Linked DNA regions of Homo sapiens: all the other regions are reported to be linked to region 2. Evidence: microRNA targets listed by miRTarBase, many of them from high-throughput screens and not tested one by one. Region 2 holds a microRNA gene; each other region holds the end of a gene's coding sequence.
What was found. Region 2 holds the annotated microRNA hsa-miR-133a-3p (UUUGGUCCCCUUCAACCAGCUG, at 3,645-3,666, shown strand). A microRNA usually pairs through its seed, bases 2 to 8, with sites in the 3' UTR of a target mRNA and lowers its output. Matches are read on the target gene's strand: a 7mer-m8 pairs with bases 2 to 8, a 7mer-A1 pairs with bases 2 to 7 and ends in A, and an 8mer does both.

Region 1: miRTarBase lists ZBTB37 as a target of hsa-miR-133a-3p. The part of its 3' UTR that is shown has no 7-base or 8-base seed match.
Region 3: miRTarBase lists CCDC39 as a target of hsa-miR-133a-3p. The part of its 3' UTR that is shown has no 7-base or 8-base seed match.

What each region holds. Positions count from the first base shown.
Region 1 is chr1:173,881,805-173,892,913 of GRCh38, forward strand. It overlaps ZBTB37 (zinc finger and BTB domain containing 37), which reads left to right. Exons shown (of 5, transcript NM_001122770.3): 5 at 3,832-11,109. The coding sequence ends at 4,320. Among named protein-coding and RNA genes, the nearest start is that of ZBTB37, 19 kb to the left of the region's middle.
Region 2 is chr18:21,818,269-21,829,377 of GRCh38, reverse strand. MIR133A1 (microRNA 133a-1) reads left to right here and starts at 3,593; the gene lies at 3,593-3,680. It overlaps MIB1 (MIB E3 ubiquitin protein ligase 1), which reads right to left. Exons shown (of 21, transcript NM_020774.4): 12 at 9,732-9,883. MIR133A1HG (MIR133A1 host gene) reads left to right here. Exons shown (of 3, transcript NR_110369.1): 3 at 1-3,899. It overlaps MIR1-2 (microRNA 1-2), which reads left to right and starts at 290; the gene lies at 290-374.
Region 3 is chr3:180,610,597-180,615,816 of GRCh38, forward strand. It overlaps CCDC39 (coiled-coil domain 39 molecular ruler complex subunit), which reads right to left. Exons shown (of 20, transcript NM_181426.2): 20 at 3,412-4,481. The coding sequence ends at 4,325. It overlaps TTC14 (tetratricopeptide repeat domain 14), which reads left to right. Exons shown (of 12, transcript NM_133462.4): 12 at 1-534. Among named protein-coding and RNA genes, the nearest start is that of TTC14, 11 kb to the left of the region's middle.

The DNA.
Region 1 (11,109 bases), not on the chromosome of region 2:
AGCACTTTGGGAGGCCGAGGCGGGCGGATCACAAGGTCAGGAGATCAAGACCATCCTGGCTAACACGGTGAAACCCTGTCTCTACTAAAAACACAAAATATTAGCCGGGTGTGGTGGCAAGCGCCTGTAGTCCCAGCTACTCAGGAGGCTAAGGCAGGAGAATGGCGTGAACCCGGGAGGCAGAGCTTGCAGTGAGCTGACATCACACCACCGCACTCCAGCCTGGGTGACAGAGGAAGACTCTGTCTCAAAAAAAAAAAGAGAAGTATCTATTCATATCCTTTGCCCACTTTTTGCTGGGGTTGTTTGATTTTTTCTTGTAAATTTGTTTAAGTTCTTTGTAAATTCTGGATATTAGCCCTTTGTCGGATGGGTAGATTGTAAAAATTTTCTCCCATTCTATAGGTTGCCTATTCACTCTGATGGTAGTTTCTTTTTTTTTTTTTTTTTTTTTTGAGACAGAGTCTGGCTCTGTCGTCCAGGCTGGAGTGCAGTGGCGCAATCTCTGCTCACTGCAAGCTCTGCCTCCCAGGTTCACGCCATTCTCTTGCCTCAGCCTCCCGAGTAGCTGGGACTACAGGCACCCGCCACCACGCCCAGCTAATTTTTGTATTTTTAGTAGAGACAGGGTTTCACCATATTAGCCAGGATGGTCTCGATCTGCTGACCTCATGATTCGCCCACCTCGGCCTCCCAAAGTGCTAGGATTACAGGCATGAGCCACTGTGCCCAGCCCTGATGGTAGTTTCTTTTGCTGTGCAGAAGCTCTTTAGTTTAATTAGATCCCGTTTGTCTATTTTGGCTTTTGTTGCCATTGCTTTTGGTGTTTTAGTCATGATGTCCTTGCCCATGCCCATGCCCTGAATGGTATTGCCTAGGTTTTCTTCTAGGGTTTTTATGGTTTTAGGTCTAACATTTAAGTCTTTAATCCATCTTGAATTAATTTTTGTATAAGGTGTAAGGAAGGGATCCAGTTTCAGCTTTCTACATAAGGCTAGCCAGTTTTCCCAGCACCATTTATTAAATAGGAAATCCTTTCAGAGTTAGGGAGATTTCTTAGGGTATTGTTACCCTCAAGATTATAAATAATATGAATTTGTAATGTTTAATAATAGCTAACATTTATTCAGTACTTTAGTGTATTAACTCATTCAATGCTCAAAGCAACTAGTGAGGCAAATGCTATTACTATATTCACTTTACAGGTGAGGAAACTGAGGAATAGAAGTGTTAACTAACCTGCTCCAAGTCACACAATAAATAGAACTCAGATTTGAACACAGGTTCCAGCATCTTTAATTGCTATGTAATATTATGCATTCATCGCATAATATTTTGGGACCATTGAAGGTCCTAAAAGTTACCATTGTATTTAGAAAAAAGAGTACTGTTGGCTGGGCCTGGTGGCTCAAGCCTGTAATCCCAGCACTTTGGGAGGCCAAGGCGGGCAGATCACCTGAGGTCGGGAGTTCGAGATCAGCCTGACCAACACAGAGAAACGCCATCTCTACTGAAAATACAAAAAATTAGCCAGGCATGGTGGTGCGTTCTGTAATTCCGGCTACTCAGGAGGCTGAGGCAGGAGAATTGCTTGAACCCGGGAGGCGGAGGTTGTGATGAGCCGAGATTGCACTCCAGCCTGGGCAAAAAGAGCGAAACTCCGTCTCAAAAAAAAGAAAAGTGTACTGTTATCATGTTCAATTCTCGTGAGAATCCTCTAAAGCTGGCAAATCATGTGATAACCTTTGTACCTTATGGATGAGAAGACAGCCTTAGAGAAGTTATTCTGTTTTGTCCCTGGTCACCCAAGACCTTTAGTGGGATGATTCCTCATTCTTTATGTGAACTCAGTTTTTTTTATCCAGGGAAATGAAGCAGAAAGAAATATTAATATGAAACAAATAAAATAATCTTAAAACCTCAGTCTTAGTATTCAACCCTTGACTTTACATACTGCTTCCCAAACCTGTTGAGAACTGCCTCTATTGGAAAGGCTGAATAGCACCATCAGCATAGGAAGGGACAAAACACATTTTTAGAAATTAAAAGGGCACAAGATCTTCTATAGTGTCTATCTTAGGGGAAAAAGTACCGGCACAATATTAATTGCTAACTAGATGAATCTTGCTCCAGTTACTCCAGAGTCAACTTTGACATTTTCTTCTCTTTGCATTGGTACTTTATTCTTTGTTAAACATATAATTCCCTCCTACATATTTAAAAAGGTTTTTATTCCTCTAATATAATGACTTCAGAAGTCAGTCATTATTAACTCAGGTTAAAAAAATAATTTCTGATTGATTTTTTTAATACAGAATTTTGAACAAAAAGCATTTCTAAATCCAAAGATTTTTTTTTTTTTTTTGAGGTGGGGTCTTGCTTTGTCACCCAGCCTGGAGTGCAGTGGCCTGATGACAGCTTATTGCAGCCTTGGCTTCCCAGGCTCAAATGATCCTCACACCTCAGCCTTCCCAAGGAGCTGGGACTACATGTGCGCACCTCCACACCCAGCTAATTTTTTATTGTTATTTTTTGTACAGGTGGGGTCTTGCTATATTGCCCAGGCTGGTCTCAAACTCCTAGGCTCAAGTTATTCTCCCACCTCAGCCTCCCAAAGTGCTGGGATTATAGGCATAAGCCACCACATCTGGCCTTAAATCCAAGATTTTTAAGTAATTTATTGAAAGGAATATGTTCATACTGCCTCCCAGTTTTCGGATAAAAGAAACCCATGCCCTCAGACAATTTACTCTGAAGTCAGTTAAACTTTAGTAGTCTTTAGAGTGAAAATAATATGTTCATATGATACTGAAATATTTTACATAAAAAGGAATATTGTCACCTACAAATTGTATACATTTTTATAAAGCTAGCTACTGCTAGATTAAAATGTGGTATTAATGATAATGTCACAATTTATAATATGTTGCCATTATATATTCTATACTATCTGATATAGTAAATGGTAGCCATTAGCCACTTGTCACATGTGGCTATTTAAATTTAAATTGTAATTAACTGAAAGCACTTAAAATTGTAAAAATTACTCAGTTGTATTAGCCATATTACAAATACTCAATAGCAACAGGTGGCTAGTGGCTACTGTAATGAATGGGGTAGAGCATTTTCATCATCATTGATAGTTCTGGCTGGGCGTCGTGGCTTACACGTGTAATCCTGGCACTTTGGGAGATCGAGGTGGGTAGATTGCCAAAGTCCAGGAATTCAGAACCAGCCTGGGCAACATGGCAAAGCCTCGTCTCTGCAAAAAGTACAAAAATTATCTGGGAGTGGTGGTGCGTGCTGGTGGTCCCAGCTACTCAGGAGGCTGAGGTGGGAGGATCATCTGATCCTGAGGAGGTCTAGGCTGTAGTGAGCCGTGATCACACCACTGCACTCCAGCCTGAGTGAGAGACCCTGTCTCAAAACAAAAACAAAAACAGATAGTTCTGTTAGACCAGCACTGCCTAAGTATTTGATTGTCTAGAATATAATTGTAAGATTAGGATCCAGGGTATAGTATAAGTGGGCTCAGTTTCTCCTCACATTACTGTAAAATAGTACATTCAGCAGGGGTTTAATAAGCATCCAGTTTGTCAGCCAGAAAGTAACTTTACTGTGTTGTTCTTTTATAGTAATGGAATAGAGTAGTCTCAATTTTTTAAAAATTATTATGGTAATATCTTTACTTTTTGGTAATAATTTTCTGTTTGATCCGCCACTAAAAAGGTACATATATCTTAGTAACAAGTAAAAATAGATTTGATTGCTTTTAATATGTATGCTTAATAATATTTGTTCTTTCTTGGTTATTTTCCTTACCTGGTACAGGTAGAAGAGTCAGCAATGATGGGAGTAAGTGGCTATGTGGAGTATCTCCGAGAGCAGGAAGTATCTGAGCGGTGGTTCCGGTACAACCCTCGTCTCACCTGCATCTATTGCGCCAAATCTTTCAACCAGAAGGGAAGCCTGGACCGCCACATGCGCCTACACATGGGGATCACACCATTCGTCTGCCGCATGTGTGGCAAGAAGTATACCCGGAAAGATCAGCTGGAGTATCATATCCGCAAGCACACAGGCAACAAGCCCTTTCACTGTCATGTCTGTGGCAAAAGTTTCCCCTTCCAGGCCATCTTGAATCAGCACTTTCGCAAAAACCACCCTGGCTGTATACCCCTGGAGGGGCCTCACAGCATCTCCCCTGAAACAACTGTCACATCTCGAGGACAAGCTGAGGAAGAGTCACCTTCACAGGAAGAGACAGTTGCTCCTGGGGAAGCTGTCCAGGGCTCTGTGTCCACCACTGGGCCAGACTGAAACATCCAGGGGGAGGGGGCTGACCCTCTTCCCCTATGAGCCATAAGCAGCCAGCATCAGAGCCATGGGCTGATACTTAGATTCACAAAATGCCACATCACTAGGCCAGAAGATGCTCCCAAGATGTTGCCAAACTGGAGGATCAGCAACTTACACAAAAGCACTAAAGGCTCCTCCCTTCTTATTGCCCGCCTCACACTTTGGAAAATAATCAAGCAAATCAACTTTCTAATTCAGGGATCAACAGCCTTGGTTTGTTAACTTTATAAGAAAAAAGGTTTTTTAACAAAACGATGATGATAAATGGTCATTTATCTATCAGTCATGTTTGAACACTGTACTTTGGTCCATATCATCTTGGTGGCTATAATTGCCCGGATCTAAAAAATGCAGCAGGAGCCTCAACCATCCGAAGCAGCCAACCGCAAGAGAGGAGGTAGTCATGATGGTGATGAGGAGGAGAAATTTCTCCTCTTCCTTCCCTGGCATAACATGCATTTTTGTGTTTCAAGAAAAAAATGAATACTGGTGGTTCTTATTTTGAAAGGTTAGGCTTTATCTTTCCCCTGACTAGGCATCTAATACTTTGCCTGGTTATTTCATATAATCAGCCATCTTGAAGCAGTATTCTAGTGGACAACATCACCTGAAGCACTTGGCAACTGGGAGTGAAATGAGCAGCAAAGTGTATGCAATAGGTACTGCTACATTTGGGGGGCTTGAGTGTTGTGTTGAGGAAGAGGAGAGCAGGGAGGGAAGTGTTTTTATGTTTTGCAAATATCAAACAGCACAGAGCCGTTCTGCAACTTCCTGACTGGTATTTGTAAACCATAGTGCTACACATCCTTGGGTAATGGCTCTAGTTCAGGTGAATTAATGTGTTAGGCTGACTACCAAAGTTTCATCTAGTCTCTTTGGCTCCTATTTTCACGTTCAGCAATATTGTAATCAAAAATGTCACTTTCCAGTGAAATGAGCCTGGATTGTATTTTTAAATCCACAGGTCTCCATATTTGATAACTTTTATATGAAGTTTTAAACATGTTTTTTCTGCAGTATTGTGGTTGAAGAAATTCAACACTATGGTTCTTACTGCAACCACAATTTCATTTCCTTATACATATGTAATAGTTTATATTTTCAGGCATATAGAAGGACCTCACTTAAAACTATGTCTCGGGTCTGCAAACCTAGTAATTCATAAACCAACCATCAGCAAACCATAGCTGGTGACTCCAAGAGCTTTGCTTTTTAATAATATACTACAGGGCACTTATCAGAAAACATCATGCAGAATCATGTTGCAATAAATGATCAAAGGATCAATTTTGGTCAGGTTTGGTTACTTAGTCATTCCTAAGATTTTTAAAACTTCAAGGGACCCTTTTAGTAATTCTGGGTATTTCTAAGATTCTTAATCCAGCACTGAGAGAAAGAACTTAGCAAACATGTAGAGCTTTGGATACCCCGTCTTTCATGAAGTGAGAGAAGGAGGAATATTAAGGGATGCCGGCAAATAGATGCTTATAACTTACAGTGCAAGTTGAAAAATCTCTAGCTTCTGTTGACGGAGCACTAGTTGTTGGGGTTCTTTTAAGTATGTAATGGTTTAAGAAATTGTTTCAGTGCAGAGGCATAGATGACTGTAAAAGAGATTTGGCAGAGGGACAGGTTGTACCTGCACTGGTGAACCATCTGTGAGAATGTTAGTCATGTGCTCCTTTCCTGAGATTGCTTTGTGGTATGTGAAAAGGTGGGTAGAAAAGAAAGAAATCTCTTTGAGATAAGAAATTAGAATGCAAAGGGTAGATCTTAAGCAATCTGAGAATTGTACATGTACATAAAGCTGCACCCTCTCACAAGAGAAAGGTTATTTTATCTTCTGAAAAAGCATAGAAATGCATCTTTTATGGGAAGATAATGATGCTACCATTTAATAAGAGCCTACCCTTAAAGGCAGCATTGAAACTGTATTTTGTCTTTAGAAGACATAGACTGGTGCATCCTCCGCTTTAGTTAGACAACAGCATGATAAGGAAAAAACTGTCTTCTAAAGCCATCTTTAGGGACTGGCTGTGCTCTGTGGCATAGAAAAGGTAAAGTTGAATTAGCCAAAAATCCTTAGGGAAACAACTGGTAATAAGGTTTTCAGTGGACAGATTTTGTCATTACTAAATAGGCAGTGAGGTGAGAAGTACAGATTATGCTGCTTTGGATGGAGCCTTTAAGCCTACCAAAAAACTTTTAAGTCCATCCTACTTTTGAGAAATAGTATGCTAGAAAGTTCTGTTTTTCTTTTTCTTCTTTTTTATATTTTTTAGAGACTGTGTCTTCCTCTTGTCACCCAAACCAGAGTGCAGTGGTGCAATCATAGCTCACTGTAATCTTGAACTCCTAGGCTCAAGTGATTGACCTGCCTCAGCCTCCAGGTAGCTAGGACTATAGGCATGCACCACCATGTCTAGCTAATTTTTAAATTTTTTTGTAGAGACGGTGTCTCTACAAAATTTGCCTAGGTTGGTCTTGAACTCCTGGCCTCAAGTAATCCTACCACCTTGACCTCCCGAAGTGCTAGGATTACAGGCATGAGCCAGTGAACTTGGCCTGGAGAAAGAATTCTTTGTTGCTTTGTTAGTTTCTTAGATTATATGTGAGAAAATGGAGCTTTTTAAACTATTACCAAATTTTAAAGGTGAAGTGCAGTAATTTCTGTAAAGAGAAACTTTGCAGCATTTGTCAATTCTCCTTCCAGGGTTAGCAACAAACAAATGAGGTAGGGACTATCTCATTCATGTGGAAATGCTATGAATGTTTGGTGGGTTTCCCCTCCCTTTTCTTTTCATTCACTTTAAATAGCCTTTTCCTATATTGATACTGTGAATAGGGTGCTTCCTGGTCATCTAGGACCACTTTAGCACAATCATGTTTGCTGGTTCTCTCAATTGGCCTAGCCAGAGCCACAAAATTCATGAAAATTTAAGGCAGGCTAGCTTTTAAACAAATTAAAACTTCTGAAAACAATTTCAGCTTTTTCGTTAAAAGAGATGTTGTTATTCTAAATAACTGTCCAAGACTCTTACCCACATACACTGTGACATTGTCCTAGTTCTTAGCTAACAACACATTGGTCATAGGAGTTACTGATGTTCTATCTACATTAATGAACAGCTATTGGTGTATGCACAGAGGATACCTCTTAAGGATGTACTAAATGGACTTTGTTTGGTTGATGCTGAAAATTAATTACCAAATCTTAACTTGCACGTGTTACCTTGTGAAGGGAACTGCATTAGCAATGAGAGCTACATCATCATGAAGTACTTTAATGCCATGAAATTGCAAACACTGGGACTGTTTTCATTTATTGAGTGGCACTTAGTAGCAAAGGAGCTATCCAGTATTCTCAGCAAAGAAGAGAGACGGAAGTATATTAATCTATTTTCATACTAAGATGTTCCTTTATTCTGTCTGAACTCTAATACCAGTATAAAATATAGCATTGGCATGAACAGTTAATGCTGTACTTAGGCAGAAAGGCTCCTTCTAATGACTTGTTCTCTCTTTACTCAGAACCGTATTTACCTCTGAACCAAGTTGAATTTTATTTTATCCAAGTTGCAAACTACCCCATGCCATTTTTATTATAATAGAGGGTTAAATCTAATCTCAAATACATAAAGGTAAATTAGTTCATAGAGGATAAAGTTTGGGAATGAAGAGAGCAGTTAAGGAAAATTTTATTTTTTGTCATTTTTTAAATGTTTCCAGTTCCCTCTACATCAGTGAAACAGGGTTTTCCAAAGATGGTTTGAAGATAGAAAAAACTTTTTCCCCCCGACTTCATAGTTGACATCTGGTATTGGTTGGAATTGGTCTGGTGGCAGAGTGAAGTAGGGAACTTCATTTTTTTCTTTTTTTTCTTAAAGGCAGGGTCTCACTATGTTGCCCAGGCTGGTCTCAAACTCCTGGGCTCAAGTGGTCCTCCTTCCTCAGCCTCCTGAGGAGCTGGGACTACAGGCGTGTGACCACACCTGGCTGTAAATGTCATTCTTAATAGCTGAATAATCTTTGGTCAAGAAGTAACTTTTCCAGAGTTTTAGCTGTTACTTGACATTAATTGGGTTTCTTTTAACTGGTGAAAACTGTATTTATTTTGTTTGACCAGACTGTCTAACTTAAATGAAAGCAATGGATAATGGAAAGGAAACTGAACAAAGACAAAAGTCTTCTTCATCATAGTGAAAGGCATTTAATCAGGAAGAGTTGGAATCCTGGAAGTTTTTCTTTTTTTCAGGTACAAGAGGCATGATTTTTTTCTCTTCCTAAAATGTCCTTCCCCTTATCTGTGTACTTATTAGTTCAAGGAATAACAAATGAGTCTTAATTGAACTTAGTCTTTGGAAATTGAGCTCTTTATTTAGGTTATATGTGAAAGAGTTTAAAATATTGAAATACTTTGGTTGCTAAGCAGATTTAGAAAAGCAACAAGCAATTGTCGGGCAAATCCCTAGGTTTGAGAAGATGTCCTCAGCAAAATATACCCTTAGGACTTACGGAATTAGATCAGGGTTCAGCAAACAGTAGTTTCCAGGCCAAATGCTGAGGCTACTTGCTTGTGTAAAGAAAATTATAATGGAATAGGGCCACACTTACTTGTTTAGGTATTGTTTATGCCTTCTTTCTACTACAATGGCAAAGTTGAGTACTTGTGACAAAGATCACGTGGCTACAAAGCTTGAAAATATTTACTGTCTGGTACTTGTTAGAAAAAATTTGCCAACTCCAAGAAAGAATTACCTCCTAAAGTTGTTACTCATGACATTTTGCCTTTATAATAGTTTGGTTGAAGTTTTAAATTCATGTTGTCACATATACATGTTTTCTTGAAAGAGTTTGCCAACTTTTTCTAGATCCTCTTATCATAACTCTTTTTGTGCTCCTTCATGATTTTTTTGTGCTCCTTCATGATTCCCATTACTTTAAAAGCATTTAGAATTGGCCTGTTGTTTGTCCTTGTCTTAATGGTGCCGGTATTTTAAAGTTTAGTTGTAAGTAAGTTTTGCCATTCCTCTGAGTTAACTTGAACTGGTTTGCATAATGGTGACAAGAATGAATTTTTTCCCAAGTGGATTAAAAACTAATTTCATTATGAAGAAGTATTTTGATTCATATCCAAAGTACTGTTTTTCTGGATTAGAACCCCTACCTTTTCCCTTTGCAATGTATCTTAATTTTAACTTCTTTAAACTTACTCTGTTCCATGTAGAGCAGTAAAAAGCCAAGTTTTTCTTCCTTTTTTCCTGGATGTTTTGAAACATAATGAAACATCTGAGGATTTCAAATTCTTTTTAGACCTATCTTCCCATTTCTGTTATTGTCTATAATTCTTCTAAATACATATTGGACCATTAACATGTTTGCTTTGTGAATGTTCATTCTTAGTGTTCAGATAGCCTACTTATACTCGATGTGGGAAAAATGGGAAATGTTAGGGGGTTCATAAACAGAAATCCTTGCAGGAAGCCGGGTGTGACAGCAGACACCTATAATCCCAGCTACTTGGGAGACTGAGCTGAGAGGCCCACTTGAGGCCAGGAATTTAAGGACCAGCCTGGGCAACATAGACCTTATCTCTAAAACAAAAAAAAATCCTTGCAAGAAGAGAGAATAATTGCTTCCCATTTGGAAATGATATAGGGACTTTTGAATTAGATCTATCTTGACAAAGTTTTCTAGGCCATGCTGATACAGTATAGGGAGTTTGAATCTGTTGTGAGCGCTGTCAACATAGACAAAGTTCAAGTGAGTAACTAGCTTTCTATAATAGGGACTCTCTTCACTAGGTATTTTAAAGTTGCTGCTTTCTAATTGGATATTAGGAAGTTTTATATGATATACCCTCTGAGTAATAGATAATCCTCATCTATAAAGTTCCAGAATATTTGCCTAGGTTAGATCTCCCCTGGCTTAGAGCAGTTATACCTATAGTAACAGTAGGTTTTTGAGATTTTGGAGTATTACTTTTCTGATTAACCTAGGATTCTGATTAACCTGGAAGGTGGGACTTGTGAAAGAAATTGGATTTTGTTAGCCCAGTGAATCATCTGCATCCCACTCTATTTGAGGTCTTGGTAATAGATGTCAATTTAAATATGCATCTATTGAAAGCAATGGAGTTTTCCAAGCATTATGACTTCCTTGATAATTTTCAGTCTTATCTTTTTTCGTATTTTCTAGTCTCTTTCCCTGTCTTTAGTCTTCTTCCTCTTAAATGGTGCTTTTCCCAGGGCCAGTCTTTCTACTTTCTAAGCAAGCAGGCTTTTTTGTTCAGGATAAGCCAGAGTTAGATATTATGAATACTTTGAAACATCTGAATATGTTACATTCCAAAGTATGTAATTATTGATAGTAGTATCAAAACCTGGAAGATATTGGTGCAGATTATTCAGTTTTGCTGTGTAGGCAGGCTGTCTTTCTCCTCAACTGTGACACAGCAGTGACTTGAGAAGGCAAATATTACTTGAAACCCCCATTATCTTTATAGAGGGTACGTATATAAATTTTCTTACCTGACATTTTTACCATTATCAATATATCAGTAGCTCACATCTTAACATAGAAGAAGCCCATTAGCTCAAATACTGGAAACTTCAAACAAGGAAATAAATTACAAAAGCAAAGCAGTTAATGAAAAAAACTTGTCTATTGCCTGCGTCTTTCATGTCTACTCAATAGGTCCTGTTGAGGAGGCTAGAATACACCATCCGGTTAAGAAAGGGGTTGTTTTGT
Region 2 (11,109 bases):
CCGAAATACACTCTGTAACACTACACTGATTCTTTGAATCTCTTGCAAAAAGAATCAAACCAGGACAAAGTTCAACAGATAACTGGTCAAATGCTTAGGAATGTCTATGTCCACCAAGAATATGGAACCATTAATGCCATGCTTCAGGTAAACTTGTTACAAAATTTAGTCTTCGATAAATTAGTCTCTGCAAATGATTTACCATTGCTCTACATTAGTAAGCTGAATGTTTCACTAACAAATAAGAAAATAAAATATTTCATGTTTTTACAGCTAACAACTTAGTAATACCTACTCAGAGTACATACTTCTTTATGTACCCATATGAACATACAATGCTATGGAATGTAAAGAAGTATGTATTTTTGGTAGGCAATAAACCACCAAGGGAGAATTAAACTGAGCTAAAAGAAGCTCTTGCTTCTTTCTACGTGAATGACCGTCATATGGTAAATTAACCTAGTCATGAACAGATGACCTTTGGCAATACTAACACCAAAAAAAAAAGGTTATCTACTACTGATAGATAGAAACTATCCCTAAGGTTTTTATTTCATGAAGGAAAAGAAGATCCAGTGAAGTAGATTTCAATTATCATGAAACTCCTTTTAAATCATCTAAGTTTAAAACAGACATCTTACATTTTTAAATTAGGCACTCTCATTATTAAAATTTGACTGCAAAAGGGAAAATAGTATTACTAGCACAAAAGAATGAGGAATACACATGACCTATTTTCTGTCTCCACAATTTAATCTTAAGTATATCTCATTAGTAGGGCTCACTGATTTGTACAGAAAAATAAGATACTAAGAGCTGGCTTCATTCACATAATAAGCTATTTCTTCTCATTTTGATAAATGTATAATTAATATTAGAGGAATTTCTGACCAAAAGTTTTGTTGTTTTAAAAAGGCTTTCTTTTTTGACAGCTACAAACATAGTGGCCCTTGTCCTTCCTTCTCAAGTTTATCAGGGTCTTAACCCAAATCTCTACTTTAAATGTGAAGTTAAAACTTAAAATTAATTAAAATGTAAGATTTAAGCATGAAAAATGACAAAATTCTGGTCCACAGCTGTAAGTCAGCAGGGTATATTGGTAACAGACTACCAAATATTTAAAAGAAATTAATTTATCTGTATTATCTTCGAATTTGCTTTCTCCAAAGAGGGCATGTAAAATGAAAGCACTATAGTCAAGAACCAATTTATACAGATCGAAGAACTGTTTTTATTGTACTATGCAATTACAATTCAATTTCTCTAAACTTGATCAATCCATTGTTTAGAAATATCAAAATACTTTTATTTCACACAGTTTGTATATTATTTATAAAAAATTCCAAATAATGCTCTTAGCAAAATTTATAAGCAGTACCTGTTTTAAGCTACTAATGACAAAGTTAGAAAATAAGAGTAATATTCACATATTCTAACCATTTCTTACTAAAAGTATTATTTCAACTGAAATATTTACACATGTATAAAAGCATAATATTTTAAATTTTTTGTATCAGAAATTGAATGGAAATGACTAAGTTTAACTATAGTTCATTTTCTGTTTAATAAGACTAGTTAATACAAAGATGATTTTCATTTTATCAGATTATAAAGAATGAGAATGACTTACACATGGCATCATATGTGTTACTGCATGTTTACTGGAAATTATAAAAGGCACATAATTTTAAAATTCTACACTTTCAAAGAAATTAGTTCAAAGCTTAACTCACATAAGCATAGCCCTTCTGATCATCCACAAAACAGAATGGCAATGATTCATGTTCTATTTGGTAAGTTTACCTGTATAGGTCCTAAATACCAAGAACTCAAAATATATACCTCAAAAGTAGAGGTTCTTCTATAAAAATACTCAAAGCTTATTACTCTACTTGTGTTTTATAATAAACAGTTATATTGGTCATTCTATAGGTATACAAGTTGTTTAATAATCCTTCTCAAACATCCTAGCAACTAAGACTCTCTTTGCTATAATATTAAGACTATATAAATAATCCTTAGAAAATAAAATGACAGGCTATTCATTTTTAAAAGTAAAATTATATGCTGATTCTGGTGCTTGCGAGTTTAACTTATCTAAGAGTATTTTCAATCACTCTAAAATGTCACATCTATCACTTAGATCAGCTGTTCATTTTTAACTGAGTACATATTAAACTCTGGGCATCTGCTGACACTGGTATAACTCAAACATTTCAACTGTCTCCCTGACAGGGATAACAGATGCTGACATTATCAAATGCTGTACTATTTTTTTCCCATGGCCTCTCCTTGCCCCGATATGGCCAGTATATGAAACTGAACTGCCATCCAAAAACACACTTGAGCAACTGGATCTGCTAAACAGCTCCCATATAACTAGTAAAAATAGAAGCCAGTATTATTGCTATCTTCAGCACTTAAGTTTAGGCAGTTTAACACCTGTTTCACTTCTACTAGAAAAAATGATGAAAAAGAATTGTAGTTAATTTCACCAGCAGTATGATACTTACCAACCAACAGACGCAGAATATACTTAGTGTAAGAGTCATTTGCATACTGCCTGAATTAGCGTTGACCTCTCAGTTTAAAATAGTAACTGTAAAGAATATTTCTCTACTCTATATTTCTCTGAGAGCACTTAACTTTATAGGCAAATTATAATTTATCAAACTTTTATTTTATGCAAGAAGACACCCCTCTCAAGACATTGAAATCAACAGTAAAACCACATTATAACAAAAATTTACTCTGATTTTTCAAGTATTATCCACACAATAGATTTTAATACTTGTATCCATGGATTGTAACTAACCACCATGTATTACTAAGGCGATAATGAGAAGTAACTTGGCAATCTGTACCCAAAATGACAAAGAACTTAGTCAAGGAAATAGACCTTTAAAAGGGTTAAATTACTAAGCTATGATTAGTAACACCACGTAAGCAAAAACAAAGAAAAACTGGCATGCATGGTAGTTCCTTTCGACACAAGTCCAAGCAATACACTGAATACACATGTGATCTATTTATAAATCAAAGGGCAGAGGTACTTTCTTAAGGCCACTGATATTCCTACACCCATCAACAATTTGCTATTAGCCCTCAACTATAATGCTAAAAGAAGCAGTGGCAGTAGAAGGGGGTGACTAACTGAACTCTTCCCCAACCTTTTAGCTTAACTATTTATCTGGTTTGCTGCCTAGAGATAAATGGAAAACATTACTCTAAAATACATCAAGGTCTATTTGTTCCTTTAAATACTATTGGTTTTGAAATAGCTTATTGTCTACATGTAAGAATTAAGCAAAGACTTCGGCTGTGGACAAGATTAGAAAAAGAAAAAGAAGCAAAGATGTTGAAAACAAAGACGTACATTGATCATTCCTTAATGCAGTAATGTGTTAAAAGGAAAAGATTTTTAAACCATTAAGCGCAGGAAAACAGTAGGAAAGTGACTTCAAAATGGAAAATTTGACATTCAGTGACTGAAGCATTGGTATGATAATTTCTAACACTTGTAGAAGGTCCATGACTGTAATTTTACCAATGAAAAGCATTTAACTGTTTTGGATTCCAAACTAGCAGCACTACAATGCTTTGCTAGAGCTGGTAAAATGGAACCAAATCGCCTCTTCAATGGATTTGGTCCCCTTCAACCAGCTGTAGCTATGCATTGATTACTACGGGACAACCAACGTTTTCATTTGTGAATATCAATTACTTGCCAACTAATTTCAACTTATTTACATTATGCAGACTGTGATTATAATCAAATAACTTGTTACTGTTAATTCTACCTGGAAAAGCTAGAATGGTTAAAGATGTTTATAAAAAGCTTTATGAAAAATGTATGGATGACTTAAGGATTTCAAATAAAAATTTTACTTATTATGGTCTCTTGGTATTAAATTTCTTATCCTTCAGAAAAGAAAAGAACTGGTAATAAAATGTAGGCTATGCTTCATAATAACAACAACAACAAAAACTTCCTTCAAAGGAAGAAAATATCTGGAAAGGTCACCTAAAACCCACCTGAACACATAATGGGATTGTACAGTGTGGTTTACATGGATGTGTGCATATTTAAATTAAAGAAAACTGTAACATTATATAACACTCTAGAAATGTTTAGTCACTATCTTCCATAGTATTGGCCTTTAATTTTACCGCTATTTACCTGAATGTTAGCAGGTAAGGTGAAAAAGATGATAACTGTAGAATATCTTGTGGAGAGGCTTAAAACAGTTATCTAGTTCTTCTGACCCTGAATCAAAGGTTTTTAGTCTTCAAAAAAGAAAGAAAATGCTAAGCATCACTACTTTTACTCATGAAATATTTCACCTCTCCATATTTGTTTTCACAGCTGTAAAATGAAGAACTCTGCTAACAATAAATACTATGACTCTCCTCACTGTCTTCTTTGTCCCTTATAAAAAATATACACACAATATTCTCCTTCAGTGGGGATAAACTGAAGTAAAGAAAAAAAGTGACAATTACTCTAACATCCGTATAATTTTCTTAATGATTGCAATAAAACTATAGATAATTTAATATTATTTAATAGAGACAAACATTTCAGCAATTAATGAAGATTACTGAAGACAAGAGTAGTTTAAAGACCCAGATGTTCACACATTCTCAACTCCTGACCACTCCTCCATTTCAAAATGAACATCATTCTCTAAAAGACTGTGGGCAAAAGGAGACATATATAAATATATATCTTATCACTTCATTCAAGATCTTCTTCCTCCTATTAATTACACCTCAGTCACAGAAAGTACATTTGTGTATTACAAGGAATATGGTGTTTGAGAGTAGATGCATGAGCATACATTAGAGAAAACACACTCTAAGTATCCTATTACCGAATAGACTCAGCTATATTTTGTAGATAGCACTCAGCATGTTTACAGTTGTAAGGAAAGCATTAAACACCAAAATACAGTACAGCTTATCAAATCTTCAAATAGCCAACATAGTCTTGTTTACAGACCATATTTCAGAATTTAAAAAGTAAAAAAAGCATCACAACATTCGAGAAGGAAAACTATGAGTTGCTCACATATTCAGTAAGATTTGTAATATGTGTCTTTGTGGGAATTAGTAAGCAAATAAGAAACGCCTGTGAAATTATCTTAGTACCAACCTAAAAACAACATATATCACATCAGGTGATTCACTCATATTTTACGTTTACTTTTCACATTCAATTTCTATTCAAGAAAAATTCGTAAATACTATATAAACTTTATAATTATATTATTGTTACCTGTACTTCCAAAATACCTATCGATTGTTTTTGCCAGCTCTGCAGAGAATACTGCTGACTAATTTATTTTCATGCCTGTAAGGGAGCTCTAAAAACAGCTAAAAATGCAGCATCTTTACAGAAAGTACCTAAGTAACATGCTGATTATGCTACTCCAAAGAAATTCAGTTTTCACTTTTATCAGCAGAAATAATTTCTACTCTTACTTTAAATCCAAAATTTTACCTATATACTAAGAGATGATAAATATGGCTAAACTCTAGATGAAAACATGCCTATAAATATTAACTATCAGAACAGACAAACAGCATTGTTCTTAGTTAAGATTTCTCAAAAAAAACAAAACTGTATTAAAACATGGTGTAATTTCTACTTAAAATGCTCCAAACTTTATAAAGCACAACCAAAGTACTCAGGGTCTCATAGTGAAAATTTATATTCCCTTCCACAATTCTAAAAGACAACAATAAATGGCTTTGTAACTCTTTTCTCTTAATGTGTTTCAGTTACTATCATACTATGAGAAAACATCAAGATCAGCTTTGAAATCTAGACTCATATTGATCTGCACCTTTGAAATAGAGACTTCAAAGGACAGTCTTCAAAAATATAGGACATCTAGACACTTCATCAGGTTCTGGAAATAACAACGTGCTATATCTGGTTTTCTTTTCTTTTCTTTCTTTTTTTTTTTTTTTAGAGACAGGGTCTTGCTATGTTGCTCAGGCTGTAGTGCAGTGGCACGATCATACCTCACTGCAGTCTCAAACTCCTAGGCTCGAGCAATATTCTCGCCTCAGCCTCCCAAGTAGCTGAGACTAAAAGTCTGTGATGCCACACCCAGCTGATTCTTTTTTTTTTTTTTTTTGATACAGTCTTGATCTGTAACCCAGACTAGAGTGCAGTGGTGCAATCTCAGCTCACTACAACCTCTGCTTCCTGGGTTCAGGTGATTCTCATGTCTCAGCCTCCCGAGTAGCTGGAACTACAGGTGCGCACCACTACACCCAGCTGATTTTTGTATTTTTAGTAGAGACAGCATTTCACAATGTTGGCCAGGCTGGTCTCAAACTCCTAGCCTCAAGTGATCTGCCTGAGTTGGCCTCCCAAAGTGCTGGGATTATAGGCATGAGCCACCACGCCCAGCCTAATTTTTTAATTTTTTAGAGACAGGGTCTTGCTACATTGCCCAGGTTGATCTCAAGCTCCTGGCTTCAAGCAATCCTCCTGCCTCAGCCTCCTAAGTCGCTGGGATTACAAATGTAAATCACCACACCCTGCTGGTTTTCTATAGTATAAAGGCCAAAAAGACTGGTTGTTATTTTTAATTCCGAGTACACTAAAAATGGCACCTTCTGTCTTCTGACATCACTGGACAGTATAGGGGGGGAAAAATCAACCTTAAGAAAAAGAAATTTGATATGAAAAAAAGAATTCAAAACATCCCAATTTGCAATTACAACTGGTAATATAAGCTGTGTCATCTGATACTCTTCAGTGTCCAATTAAAATCACACTCTATCTGGCAATCTATAGTCACAACTACCTAAAAATGTCTTAAGGAAGTAGGAATAAAGAAGGCATGTAGCTTTAACTGAAGCACTACTTTGTTAAAGAATAAAAGCATTTTTTTTTAAATGTCACCTGACACCAAATATCTGGTTGGAAGAGGTGCTGTTTTAAATTTTCAGGGGAACCCTCAAGATTTATGCAAGAATTGAAAAAAATAAAAGTAAATTTTCTCTTCCTTGTATAGGCTTAGCATTATTGAATATACTATGCCTACTCTCAATAAAAATGAAACAACTCAAAATATTTAAAAGATACTTGTTTCCTAAGCACTTCAATTCTCAGTTTATACTAAACTTTATGATTTCATATTCCCTCAATAAATCCTAAATTCTCTCAATAAAATCTTTTTGACCATTGTAATCTGAAGTAATTGCTGTTTGAATTCCTAACACAGTTTCTCTACAGAATTCATTTTGTAATTGATCATATAACATCTTGTGATATTTAACAGTGTGCTCACTGTCAAAGTAAGACTAACATTTATTGAGTGCCTTGTATAGCCAGAGCATATGTAGGATGAACAGATGAATATGAATGCCCACAATGTAAAGAGAAAGACAGAAGTGCACATAGTAATAAACAGCACTAAGCAGAGTATATAGTAAGTATAATAAATAAGAACACAGAGGAAGGGCGCGGTGGCTCACGCCTGTAATCCCAGCACTTTGGGAGGCCGAGACAGGCGGATCACGAGGTCAGGAGATCGAGACCATCCTGGCTAACGTCGTGAAACCCCGTCTCTACTAAAAAATACAAAAAAAATTAGCCGGGCATGGTGGTGGGAGCCTGTAGTCCCAGCTACTCGGGAGGCTGAGGCAGGAGAATGGCGTGAACCCAGGAGGCAGAGCTTGCAGTGAGCCGAGATTGTGCCACTGCACTCCAGCCTGGGTGACAGAGCAAGACTCTGCCTCAAAAAAAAAAAAACAAAAAAAACAAAAAAAACACACACAGAACAAGGAAGTATAGAGCAAACAAAATAATTCCAGTGATGACACAGGAGGTAGCTCTGGAAGAAAGACGGTTAAGATAAAGAAGCGGGATGGGGCATCCCAAAGAAAGAAAATGCTCCAAAAAATAGAAGAAGAAAGCAGACAGCATATTTTAGGAAAGGAGAATAGACGATGGGCAAAGCGGGCTGAGGGATTGGATTAGCAGGAGATAAAGTTAAACAGACTCAGGACACACAGAATATGGGTCTGAATGCCAAGCCAAAGTGTGTAGATTGTATTCTATGTTAACAGACAAAAACTGAAGTTGGGAAACAGGGGAAGAGAGCCATTTAGACCTATGCTTTCAGAATGGATAATTTGTAAATGTATAAAATTTAAATCAAGAAAAAGACTGAAATCAAAGAAAAAAATTAGAAGAATAGTATAATAGTCTAGGTAAATGTGGTGAGTACTTAATTGGGTCAGCAACAGTGGGAACAGAATGGAATGGGTTGGAAGGATTGGTAGAATGAGTAAAATTTTAAAACTAGTTGGAAGCTAAGAATTGGTGAGAGAGCAAAGATAACTCTAAGCAATGAAGCAGCAAGAGGAATGAGGTATTGACACATTCACTGCCCATGTGTTTTGGTCTTGCTTCACAGACAGACCATAATACAGAAAAGGTGATGTAAAGTGGTTTAACAGTTATGATTCTAAAGTCACCTAGACCTTGCTCAAGTTACAGCTGCTTCAGTAATCAGCTACGTGTTCTTGAATAATTAAATTCATCTCTATAAGCCTCATATTCTTCACGTGTAAAATGAGGATATTAACACCTGCCCCAAAAAGCTGTTGAAAGGATTAAGTGAGATGATGCATGTGAAGCACTTTGCAGAGGCTGGCATGTGGAAAGTGCTATCATAATCTTCTGTTTGAAGGGCAGGGAAATATAATACTACTGTCTTCTTCACAATGCCAAAATCTGAAGTGTTCAAATATTTGCAATTTGGAAAAAAAATCAAGATGTGATCTAAAATATGATCATTCATTTTGTCCTACAATATATACCCACTGTTACAGTTACCAATAAGCAGTAGCAATAAAATCCTTTTGTTTCCTGTGGTCACCCTCTAGTGGTGATCCTAAGAAGCTAAAGGAAACATGATATAAAAATACAATAAGGAACCAAAGAATAAGTGTTCAGAATAGATAAAATTATCAAAATAAAAATCAAAGTGAAGATTTTTCTTAGTCCAGGTATACAGGTTTGACTCAAACATAAACAGAAGACATCCAATGCAGAATTTCCTAAAATGCTTAGGGTAAAGTTGTTCCAAAAAGTGAGTTAATGGAAATCTCTAAATTAAGCAAAGCTAAGCATTTTCCCATTCTGTGGGACACCGCAGATCCTTCATAAAGAATGTGATTCTCCAAAAGGAGTCTTTCTCAAATGTCAACCAGCAAATACTTTTTTCAGTAGAATACTATTGCTGTAACAATGGATGAGGGGATAGCTATACTAGAAGTTTATATAACTAATTACATTATTAATAAGGAATTAGGTAACTTAGTATTTATTTAGTCTTAAGTTTTAAAAAATAATTATCGTGCAAATGGCAACATGAAATTAGAGGACACCCAGATAATTATTTTGAAGAAACATAAATCTCAAAATAAAATGCATTTTAATTAAATCTTTAGAAAGAAACTAGTATTCCTGATATTTTACAACCACATTTAATATAAACTTAAATAATCATTTCATAATATTTGTATTAGATTAACAACCAAATAATCATCATATAAAACTAAAGGCATAATATTCACAAAACTTTAAAATGATTTAAAATACTAAAATAGCCAAAATTATTTCTTCATCAGTATCAGAAAAAGAGAATCAACAGTAGGAAAATATTTTTGAATTGCACCTAAAATAGTAAGGGGTGACATACCTGGGATTTCCCCTTAGTGCAGCATGATGCAGAGCATTAAATCCATTATTGTTTGTGATGGTAACATCTGCTCCAGCTTCCAAAAGAACTGCTAGGATATCATCACGTTTCTTACTTATTGCATCATGAAGAGGGGTATCACCTTCAGAATCCTTTAAGTTTAAAGAAATTTTCATTAGTTCTTCAATTAATTATCCCATCTAATAGTAATACTTACACCAAATGCTAAGCAAACAGAAGCAGAGACCACATCCAACAAATACCAATAAAAGAGCACTTTCTGTGATAACTACAAAAATATAGGCAAAGGCTGGGCATGCTGGCTCATGTCTGTAACCCTAGCACTTTGGGAGGCTGAGGCGGGAGGATCAGCAGAGGCCAGGAGTTCAACACCAACCTGGGCAACATATAGAGACCTTGTCCCTACAAAAAATTTTAAAAATTAGCCGGGCACGGCGGTGTGCACCTATAGTCCTAGGTACTCAGGAGGCTGAGGCAGAAGAATGGCTTGAGCCCAGGAGTTCAAGGCTCCAGTGAGCTATGATCATGCCACTGCACTCCAGCCAGGGTGACAGAGCGAGACTCTATCTCCAAAAATATAAAAAACAAAAATACAGGCAAGAAACACTGGCCACATTATAGTAAGGAAAGACATACTCAAATCTAGTTGGAAAACAAAATAAGCATGCTGGAATTTTTTTTTCTTTTTTTTGAGACCAAGTTTCGCTCTTTCACTCAGGCTGGAGTACAATAGCGCGATCTCAGCTCACTGCAACCTCCACTTTCCGGTTTCAAGCGATTCTCCTGCCTCAGCCTCCCAAGTAACTGGGATTACAGGCACCCACCACCATGCCCAGCTAATTTTTGTATTTTTAGTAGAGACGGGGTTTCACCACGTTGGCCAGGCTGGTCTCAGACTCCTGACCTCGTGATCTGCCCACCTCAGCCTCCCACAGTGCTGGGATTACAGGCGTGAGCCACCTTGCCCGGCAAAGTTCTTTTTTTGTAGAGATGGGGGTCTCAGTATGTTGCCCATGCTGGTCTTGAACTCCTGTGCTCAAGTGATCCTCCCACATGAGCCTCTCAAGGTGTTGGGATTACAGGCATAAGCCACCACTCCTGGCACATGCTGAAGCTTTACAAAGCAAAAAGAAAAGAAAAGAAGTAGCCTCAAATATAACTAATGACAAAAACCAGTGAAGTGATAAAGCTGCCCCCCAAATTTTATAAGTTTAAAATGGCCTTAATTGTCATACCCTGAAATTCCATACCAAACCTACACCATAACAATGAATTGAAAGTCGGTGGCTTTCAAACTTGGCTGCTCATTAGAACCTGCTGGGGAGATCTTTTAAAATCTGTTGTACAGAGGAAAAAA
Region 3 (5,220 bases), not on the chromosome of region 2:
TTGTATTAGTCATAACAGTTGAGTGCAGAAATCTCTGCTTCTAAAATTATTTGTAGAGATTACAGGAAACAAATGCTTTTAAGTAAGTTTTTCTCAAATTTTGTTTCAGTTCTAGGTCCCTTGTCACAGCTTGGTTTTTAGACTTTTTATGTATATGTTTATGTACAGTATATTACTCTTGACAGTTTGAATTTCTTCACCTAAAGATAATTCTCTGAAAGTACTGTTTCTTCATTCTATTGCGGTATATGAGAATTCCTGGGTGCATCTTATTCTGCTGTTTGAGAGAAAAATTTGTGCATTGAACACTTGGATCATTTTTATAAAAATTAATTTCATTTTCTTTTCTGTTAAATTAAAAATCGTCAGCTTTTGAAAGATTATATGTTCGAATGTTTCTTGAACACTTTTATATTTATCAGTTTAAATATTACATTTTTTGCCCAATTTTTTTTAAAATTTTTAAATGGTAGATTATATGTCTTAATTTTCCTCTAAAGCCCAATTTGATTAAAAGTGGTTTGTGAACAGTCATTGGCTTCCACCCAGCATAAGTGCCTTAGGAATAAGATCATAAAAGTTGAATAGGAGCCCATTTTGCTTATTTCTCCATTATTTTTTACCTCATTGCTAGCATAGCCATAAAAAGCTTTTTAACTTTAAATATTTACAAGGCCCTTAGGGCCTGTATTCCACGCAAGGGTAAATCAGAAAAGAAAAAAATCCTTTTAGCAAAAACATAGCAGTAGCAGAGAAGCACATTGTAAATCTGGCTTTTCTTTAGGGAAAGAAAATTGGGAGACTCTCCTAGTGTAGCAGATGTTCAGTCCAGAAGGCACTAGGCATGTCGTTAAATCTGACCTGCATTTCTTCTTACCACCTCCTGTGCCTTGATGCTTCTCTGATGACCCCTTTCTCAGAGTCTGAATAAATAACTAGACCAACTAGAGCCTGGTTTTACTAAGAATAATAAATTCCAGCAGCTAGAGCTGAAGAACAAAGAGACTTGGATTATAAAGATCCTCCCCAAATTGCTGAAAATAGTGTGGTATATTCTTTGGGAGACAGATAGAGATAGGAGTCATAGGTACTGGGTTTATGATGTCATTAGAGTTTGCAGTTTAAGATTCTCAAAGCTGTAAATTACAATGGACTTTAGATACTGTCACACACAATGACACTAGATAAGTGGGTGGGTAGCTGAGGATCTACAGAGGTCTAAGTGAGGGAGAATAATAGAGGAAGAAGAGACTTATTCCTTGTTCTGTCTTGCAGTTCTTGCCAACAGTAAAATGTCCAGGCCTTAAGTACTGGGTGTGTATTATCTGTGTCTATCAAACTCCAGTAATGAGAGCCTAGTGAAAAATCTGAAATTTCTTTTGCAAATGGAACAGTGAAAAGAAACCCTGGTCAAGAGCAATAGATAATGGTGATAGAAATCGGCTAGTCACTCAAAGCATTAGTCTTTGCACCAAGAAGAAGCTTCTTTAAGAAATTCATCTTAAAAAGAGTCCTTAATAATTCTATGTATTAATAGCTCCAGTATCATCTTTACAAAGTCGTGTTTATAAAGAAAGAGTGAAAACTACTTCTTGGCATACATAGCCTTTGACCTTTTGGAATCCCTAGTTCAGCTTAAAATTTTAAACACAACATTTAAAAAATTTTTTTTTCCTTAATTAATTCATATAAATTTAAGGGGTACACATGCATTTTTGTTACATGGATCTATCGTGTAGTGGTGAAGTCTGGGCTTCTAGTGTAACCATCACCCAAATGATGTACATTGTACCCATTTCATAATTTATCATCCCTTACCCCCCTGCCAACCTACCAGCATTGGCGTAGGCAGAATTCATGATTCAGACCTCAAAAGTGGAAGCAAGAGGGGCTGAGTACAGTCACTCATGCCTGTAATCCCAGCACTTGAGGCTGAGGGAGGAGGATTGCTTGAGGCTAGAAATTTGAGACTGGCCTGGGCAACGCAGCATGACTCCATCCAAATAAGTTGGGTGTGGTGGTGCATGCCTATAGTCCCAGCTATGCGGGAGGATCGCTTGAGCCCAGGAGTTCGAGGCTGCAGTGAGCTCTGATTGTGCCACTGCACTCCAACTTGGGTGACAGCCAGACTGGTGTCTTAAACACAACAAAAACAAAATGGGACTTAAGTAAGCTACGAAGTTCTTGCACAGCAAAAGAAATAACACAGTGAACAGACAACCTGCAGAATGGGACAAAATGTGCAAACTATGCATCAGGCAGGGGACTCATCCAGAATTTACAAGGAATTCAGCAAACCAAATCACCCTATCCAAAAGTGAGCAGAAAACATGAATAGGTATTTTTCAAAAGAAGAGATAAAAATGGCCAAGAAGCGTATGAAATAATACTCAACATCACTAATTAGAGAAATGCAAATTAAAACCAAATGAGATATCTCTCATCAGTCAGAATGGCTATTACACCCCATTCAATGTAAGAGAATAGTACCTTATCCTGTAGGCTGCCTGAATTTATTAGGTAGGCGCAAAAGTAATTGCAGTTTATGCCATATTAAGCAGAGTATACAAACCAATTTCTAAGGAAGTTCATCACAGCAAAAATTATTGGGGATTTACATTGTCAAGAATAGCGACATCTTCAGTAATTTTTCTCAAGATCATATATTGCCATATCTTGGTCTCCATAAGCAGATGAAGCATGACTTTTGGATATGAGGATAAGTGTCCAGATTTGGAGATAGGTTGATCCCCTGTCGCACCATTTGTCATTACTACACTGAAGTTGTTAGAACTGTTATTTAAGGATTAAATGTAGATTCGTATGCTGGCCCAAGAACCAAACCATTCCACAAATTCTGTGCTAAGCTCCAGGTGGCAACTCAGTAAGTAGAAGTTATATAGTGCAATTTCTGTGTGTCAAGCCCTGTGCATCTTTTTTATATTATCAAATTCGGTAAACTTGTAGGTAACTTTCTGTGTCTATAGTACAAATGAGGAAAACAGGGAAGTAACTATCCAAGGTTACAGAGCTAGTAAGATACAACCTCTACCTTCATAGAAGAGTGTTTAATATTACTTCAAGTTTTAAGTAATTCCCAAACTAGCACAGGGCTGAGAATAAGAACTTTGATGAGCAAAGTGACTTTAATTAGTTTTTAGGTCTTATAAATCTCATGCATTAGAGCAGTACTTTAGCCAAAAATTTTATTACCTACCTTTTTTTTCGCCCACCTTATTCTTGACTTTGCTATGCCTTTTTCCTATTTCTAAAACAAAACAAAAAATAATCAGGAGAACTATTCACTACCACTACTGCTTTTCAGAAAGAAGTACAAACAACAGTTCTAAAATAATGACAGTTGTAATGAGCATTTTTTCCCAAGGTTTGAAGGAGACACATGTACATTCGTGAATTCTAATACATTTATTTAAAATCCAGTTTTATAATATTCCACACTCTATTCCAAGAGTACAAAGTGTTGGGCACATGTTATAATGAAGTGTTAACTGGAAAAACTACTACATTTGGCAGTCTACCTCCAACTGTAAATGAAATTTCTATTGCAAATCAAGTCATACCTAGCTTTCATTAAATCGTTTATTAAATCAAGAAAATTTCAAAATTGTTTATACTTGGTTGGCTGTATCTGAAAGCAAATCTTTAATGCGTTTATTTCAAGGTCAGAAGTGATTTATTTCAAGGTCAGAAGTGATTTTTCTAAATTTATGCTGCATTTTAAAATTGATATACAGTGTTTCTCTTACCGGTTTTTTTTTGGGGGGGTGGGGTGGGTAGGGGTTGATGCTATTTTTTGGTTAAAAATTATAGCAAAAGAAGAAACTGCCTTTAACAATTTTTCTCCCCAAAAGTCTGAGAAATAGTTACTTTGAATAAAGAAAACCTAATTTTGGTGTCTTGTAGGGTAAATGAGATTTTCACATTGCAATACGCTCATAATAGTACAGTAAATCTTTAGAAATTTCTTCTTGAAAGATTGTTACATTAGAAGTGAGTGTAGTTTCGTGAAATAATGAAGCAAACTATTTTCTAACACTACGAACATCAGAATTACAGTGAAATACAGCATTTTTCCTATGCTTGTATAACATGTAGCCTTGTCAAGAATCTGCTATTAATTTCTTCAGTATGAAGAAAACAGTAGAGAAAATGAGAACGTTCCTTTTTTTTTAAAACTATCAGTTTTTACACTTACCACTAAGTTTTTACACTTTCCACTAGATAAAATGTGTTGGGTCGTTTTGTATTTTAAAGTATATTTTTGTTTTTGTGTTTACAACTTTTTCAGAAGAGATTAAAATGTTTATTTGCTGCTCTTTTTGCTCTTAACATTACTAGAGCTACTACTAGCACTAGATGGCCTAGAAGGGCTGCCTACTAGTGAAGAGGAGGCCGGGAATTTAAGCTCCAGTACTTTAATTGAAGACTGAGAAGTAGATGTACTTGTACTCCTAGATGACCTAGAAGAAAAACCAGAATTATAAATTCAATGCAAAGTTTATATTTTAGTATAGACCCTCTCATTATTGGCAAAAGGTACCATAATTCCATAAGTAAAGACATCAAAAAAGTACATATTAATAGTGTTAAGTTTTTAAATGACCATCAATAGATATCAAACAATTTAAACAGGAAAGGAAAGATGAACATAGATGAGTTTCAAACCAGTAGAAAAGTAGTTTAATAAGTATGTTCCTACATGGTAAAAATGCTTTGAACTATAATCAGTTTTTTAGAGTTGGAATCATTAAGCATTGAAAGTTTCCAAAACAGAGGAAATAGGGCCAAGAGGATTTGGTGCTGGCAAAAATAATTAAAATGATACCTTTTGTAATTTAAGCTGAAGAGAAGAGAGAAGCATATTGATGGATAAAGTGGTGGGGTCATTTGAAAAACAGCTAGCTATATAATTCTGAAAAAAGTTTTAAATATATATTTTATGAAAGTACAGGGATGTTCAGTTATATAGAAACAGTTTTTTATACTTAAATGAAACACTTTTTTTAGGGGCCTCTTCATGAAATTTTTACCTGGACTAAGGAATAGTAATTTAATAAGTAGCTGCTGAATGCAGGAGATTGTGAATTCTAAAATCAGGATCATTATTAATAAATTTTTGTCAGCAAAGCACAAGAATGTTTGCTTAAGCATCTGGTGATAGAATTCTGGGTAACAACTGCAGAAGAAAAAAAAAGGGGT